2 separate regions of the Homo sapiens genome follow, and region 1 is linked to region 2. Evidence: fine-mapped QTL for protein levels in blood plasma. Region 2 holds a variant in brackets. A gene starts in the other region. All regions are shown on their forward strands.

The links. PIP is the posterior inclusion probability: the model's chance that the variant is causal. Protein levels are from antibody-based Olink assays in UK Biobank. Linkage for the fine-mapping came from a reference panel and not from the study's own genotypes, which makes the PIPs less certain.
Region 1: C1QL2 starts here. The variant in region 2 is fine-mapped to the plasma level of the C1QL2 protein (UK Biobank, PIP above 0.99).

What each region holds. Positions count from the first base shown.
Region 1 is chr2:119,157,339-119,160,251 of GRCh38, forward strand. C1QL2 (complement C1q like 2) reads right to left here and starts at 1,413. Exons shown (of 2, transcript NM_182528.4): 1 at 248-1,413. The coding sequence starts at 931. RefSeq lists an enhancer at 1-591.
Region 2 is chr1:207,117,836-207,120,748 of GRCh38, forward strand. All of the region lies in intron 4 of C4BPA (complement component 4 binding protein alpha), which reads left to right. Among named protein-coding and RNA genes, the nearest start is that of C4BPA, 15 kb to the left of the region's middle. The variant G/A (reference allele first, on the strand shown) is at 1,318.

The sequences.
Region 1 (2,913 bases), not on the chromosome of region 2:
GCAAGTGGCCAAGGAGTGTAGTTTAGGTATGGGGGTCTCTGGGCTCTCAAGGCCCAACATTTGGCTCTACGTCCCGGTGAGCGCGGCCTCGGCGCATCGGGAAGCGGAGATACTGTGGCACCGAGGCGCGTTCATTCCCGGGGCTCGCAGGGTAGCCCGCGGGTGGAGAGAAAGGAGGCTGGTTCCCTGGGAGGTTCAGGGCGCGGGCGAGGGTTTACGGGGGCCGGTGAGTGTAGGGGTCACTGACCTGCCCGTTCTTGCAGAGGTCCGCCCACATGCTGGTGCCGTCGCCGCCGCGCATGAGGATGTGGTAGGTGAAGAAGTAGATGCCGCGTACCTGGCAGCTGAACTTGCCCGTGGTGGGGTCATAGTGATTGCCGAGGTTGGTGACCACGTCATCGAACTTCAGCACCTCATAGCCTTCGTGGGGGCTCTTGAGACCCACATAGAAGGCGATCTTGGGGCCGCTGAAGGTGGCGCTCAGCGCACTGGTCACTTCACCCTCGGAATCGCCACCTACCCCGGCCCCGCCGCCCACCACCCCGACGCCGCTGGCCGTGCCCGCCGTCAGTTGCAGCCCTGGCAGCCCGGGCCGCCCCGAGTCGCCCTTCTCTCCCGGAGGGCCCCTGGGTCCAGGCGGGCCCGGCTCTCCAGGGGGCCCCCGCGGCCCTGGCTTGCCCGGTCGCCCCGGGTCGCCCTTGGGTCCCTGGATGAAAGGAGGAGGAGGGTTGGCGCTGAGGTCCTGCATGACTTCCAGGGCGGCGGTGCTGGGTCCGGGTGGCTGCGCCTTTGCACCCGGGGGCTCCCCGCCGGGCGCGGCAGTGTAAGGGTCGCAGATCATGCGGCAGGTGCCCATCATCTCATAGTGCGCGGCGCCTCGGGGCGCCGCCTGCAGCAGCAGCGGCACGGCGATGAGCAGCCCGAGCGCCATGGCCAAGAGTACGCCGACGGCCGCCAGGCAGGCACGCCGCCGCCGCTGCCACAGCCGGGAGGCGACCGCCACCAGCTCCTCCTTGCCGCCCGGGGAGGTAATGGTGGGGCGGCGCGGGCGGCCCCGCTCCCCGCGCTCGGGGACCGGCTCCGCGGGTCCTGGCCGCGCCCCCGACGTGGCGACCCCCAGCCCCGGCTACCCAACTACTTCAGCGAGAGGCGCCGGGACCTCTGAGCCTGGGCCCACCGCGCTGGGGCTGGTCGGGAGAGCCGCGGACGCCCGCGCGCATGACGTGGGGCACACAAGACGAATCCGGCGCCCCGAGGGTCCGGCGCCGGCCAGGGAGTGCTTGCGCTGGCCGGGGAGTCTGCTTGCGGCGTCCGGCGCTGGCTCCGCGGCGCTGCCTCCCGCCAGGCTCCGCTCCGCTGGGTTTAGTGGGGCTCCTAGCGCAGTGAGGGCGCCCCGGCTCCGCGGCGCGCTCTGCTGTGCTCTCTCGCTGTTCGCTGGCTCCCGCGCGGAGGGGGGACCCCGCTACCCTGACGTAAGGAGTCCGGGGCTGAGCGGCGGAGGCGGCGAAGCAGCGCGCGCTGCCATCACTCGGGAGACGGAGCCCTCATGTCATCAGCCTCCTATCTGGCGGCGTCCTCGGCAGAGGCGGTGAAGGCGCGGTTCCCCCTGGCGGCTCCCAGGAGCCACAAGTGGGCGCAGCGGGCGCGGTCCCAAGCCGGGGCACATCGGACACACCCACCCGCGGCCACACTCACGCGCCCCCCACCGATAACACACACAGACACCCACGCACGCAGTGGCGGGGCACGCACAGCCACCCCCACATGGCCACGAAAGCAGCTGGAATCCAGGTGTCAGCAGGGCTCCTCTGGGGTCACCTAATCCATCCCCTGGCCTGCAAAGAGGATCAAACCTCAACCCACCGAGTCCAGGAGAGTCCCGTGAGGTCCAGCGGGAAGGAGTTTCTGAAAGACCTCCTGAGTTATTTCTTCAGAATTGAATAGATCTCGCTTCTGGAAGATCTTTCGCAAACCTAGACTAAGGACTCCAGACTCTTAAACAGGCTCCCGTAGAGCACCCCACTAACCTCTGAGGTGACTCTAAAAAGCCCAAGGCTCCCAATACAAGAATATTTGCGGCCGGGCGCAGTGGCTCACGCCTGTGATCCCAACACTTTGGGAGGCCGAAGCGGGCAGATCACCTGAGGTTGGGAGTTTGAGACCAGCCTGACCAACATGATGAAACCCCGTCTGTACTAAAAACACAAAATTAACTGGGCATGGTGGTGCATGCCCGTAATCCCAGCTACGCGGAAGGCTGAGGCAGGAGAGTCGCTTGAACCAGAGAGGCAGAGGTTGCGGTGAGGCGGGATCGTGCCATTGCACTCCAGCCTGGGCAACAAAAGCAAAAGTCCATCTCAAAAAAAAAAAAAAAAAAAAGGAATATTCGCCTCAGACCTTTTCTTCCACCAGAAAATGGCTGGCCCTTGTCCTCTGCGTGAAGCTGGTGTAGAAACCAAATGCTTGATGCCGGCACTTGGCAGTGATCATGGTGCACTCAGCTTCTACTCCAAGCCCGGCCACTGCCAGGCAGATGCATGGGCACATTCCCTTGGACATCCCCAGCTTCCTCCTCCTGAGATGGGTTTAGTTATTTTAGAAAATAGTCCAAATAGTCCAAAGCCATTCTGAGCCAGTCTTGAATAAACCATGGCCTCAGATGAGAGCAGAATAGTCTATCTCCAATGTAGCATGTGAGGCTAAGGAAGGATGAGAGGCCCGCCGGTGTGGGAGAGACTTCCAGCGGAGAAATCAAAGCCCCAGCTTCTGCTCTTGCCCTGAGTAGCTGTGTGATTTTGCCAGGTGGTTCCTGTCCCTGAGACTCAGTTTCCTTAAAAGGCCGCCTCCTGCCCTAGCACCCCCAACATGGGAATCACACCAGGCCTGTCCTGGGGGGAGAATCTAAGGGCTGGT
Region 2 (2,913 bases):
AGTGCCCTTCCTGCATCTTGCTGTGTTTCAAGTGCTTTTAACTCAAAAAACAATCTTTATGCCAAACTGGTCTATTTTGGCATATTCTGCTACCCTTTGCTATGCTTTCCTCAGTTCGTCTTAGTCTTTTTTTCCTTGTTTCTTCATGTGTGTTTCAGCTTTCCTCACATAGATTTTGCATTTCTTGAAGAGTTTAAACCTCTGGCAAAACCAAACAAAAAATGTTTTTGGTATTTTAAATGGATTATTTATCCAATTTGTATTGTAACTAGTTTATCTATCATCTATCTATCATCTATCTGTCTGTCTGTCTGTCTGTCTGTCTGTCTGTCTATCTATCTATATCTATCTATCTATCATCTATCTATCTATCATCTGTCTATCTATCTATCTATCTATCTATCTATCTATCATCTATCTACTATTGATTTCTGCATGTTAGTTTGATATCTCAGCCAACTTTCTAAATTTATTATGCATTAGTTCATTCTCATGCTGCTATGAAGAAATACCCAAGACTGGGTAATTTATAAAGAAAAGAGGTTTAATTTACTCACAGTTCCACATGGCTGGTAAGGCCTCAGGAAACTTACAATCATCGCAGAAGGCAAAGGGGAAGAAAGGCACCTTCTTCACATGGCGGCAGGGAGGAGAAGTGTTGAGTAAAGGGGGAAAAGCCCCTCATAAAACCAACAGACCTCATGAGAAACTCACTCACTATCACGAGAATAGCATTGGGGTAACTGCCCCCATGATTCAATTACTTCCCACTACATTCCTCCCATGACACATGGGGATTATAGGAACTACAATTCAATATGAGTTTTGGGTGGGGACACAGCCAAACCATGTCATATTATTTGTAAAAATTTAAAAAAATTCTTTCAGTTGAATTCTCTTAGGATTATCTGGTTTGTAATCACATCATTTCAATGATTCTTTTACCTCCTACTTCCCAATTTTTAGATTTCCATTTTCTTTTTCTTATCTACTTATGTTAATTATGTCAGTCAGGATTTACCTGGAGAAATAGAACCGCAGGATTTATTGTAGGGACCTGACTTGACATAGGTGTGGGAGATAGTTAAATGGTGTTTACAGGAGGCTGTTCCTTCAATGTCTGTTGCTGTGGCCTGAAGTAAGCAGGGCAGGGACTCAGGAAGGGAAGATAGACATGAACTGAGTGCTTCAAGGACAAACTGGAACCTGCAAAGATGAGCGAGTAAAGCCCACCATTGTAAACTGGAATTCATCTTGTTCTTTCACTGCCCCTTAGCCTTCAACTTCAAAAATGGGTATGTCCTGTAGAAGTTGTCC[G/A]TCACAGTGCTAATGTACTTGGATCAGAAGCCAGGGTACATGAAGGAGGAGATCCTGCAGGAGCTGGCTCTGCTGTGGCCTGGTTGAGCCCTCTACTAACAAAGTGATAGAACAGAGAAACAACAGTGCTTGTGAACTGCAGTCACATCCTGTGCTCTGCCCTGACCTTTCTAGCATATGGAGTATGGCTCTACTAATTCACATCTACCGTCTTTTATGGGCCATACTAACTTGGCATTATGTATGGAAGATAATTCTGGGAAACATAATTACAGCTTAGCTAAGTTGACACAACATAAATCTACCACAGCTCACTCCTTGTCAAATGTGATATTTGTATACACTAGTTTTAACCATACTTAGCTTAATTTCCAAATAAAGTCAATAGCAAAGTAATACTCACATTTTACATAATGCAACTATCCCTCATACACCCAAAAACATGGAAATTCTTTTCCTAAAAGAGAATTCCCTTTGAGCTGAGTCATATCTCCCCTTTGATATTCTATAACTTAAATATTGAGATGTAAGGTAAGCCACTACAAACACATCTTATACAGTAGGGGAAGGAAAGGGGTAAAAAGAAACACAATTAATGTAATGTCCATTTATATTAAAATAAGAAAGAAATATTCACAACTTTTATGGTCCTTGTTTATGCAACTGGTCATGTGGTTGTAGCAGATATTTATAACGATGTTTCTGTTACTTATTCCATATTCTCTTTGCCCTCAGCAAGCACTTCATCTGTCGTTGGTTCCTTGCCCAATGGGGTCACCTAAACTTTTATTCTTGAATGGTCTGGGCCATCAGCAGTCCTGCCTGATTTGGGTTATTATAGTTTTTTGTTGATTTTAATTATAGGGCATTGGAGTGTAAGGGGGTGCACCCAGTATGTCTGGGTGCCCTGCATTCCAGACATACTCATCTTTACCATCACTGTGCAGAAGCAATCTAATTTTTCCCTTCATTATCAGGATTAGTCACACCAACCATCAAAGTGGACTCCTTCTTTGCCTTACCTTCACTTGCATGAGGGTCCAGAGTTGACAGGTCTCAACCTCCAAGCTTAATTTAGGGTTTTCAGGTAAAATACAGGATGCCCAGTTAAATTTGATTTTCGGGTAAACAACAAATAATTTTAGTGTATGTTCCATGCAACATTTGGATCACACTTAAACTAAAAAAAGTGTTCATTGTTTACATGAAATTCACATTTAACTAGGCACCCTGTATTTGTATTTGCTAAATCCGGCAACTCTAATTTTTGGAACTCTTGCTGCGTCCCCCAGTAGAAGCATTCTTCCACTGAAGACTTCCAAACTGACTGGGCCAGGTGCAGTGGCTCACGCCTGTAATTCCAACACTTTGAGAGGTTGAGGTGGGAAGATCACCTGAGCCCAGGAGTTCAAGACCAGCCTGAGCAACATAGCGAAACCCATCTCTAAAGAATAAAAAAATTTAAAAAACAGAAAATAAAAGAAATAAAAAGACTTCTAGATTAACCAAGAATGTTACTTATTTTTATGTTTTAAAATTTACAGTTGTTTTATGGCGCATCATGATATACAATCAACTTTCATTAATATTTCAACA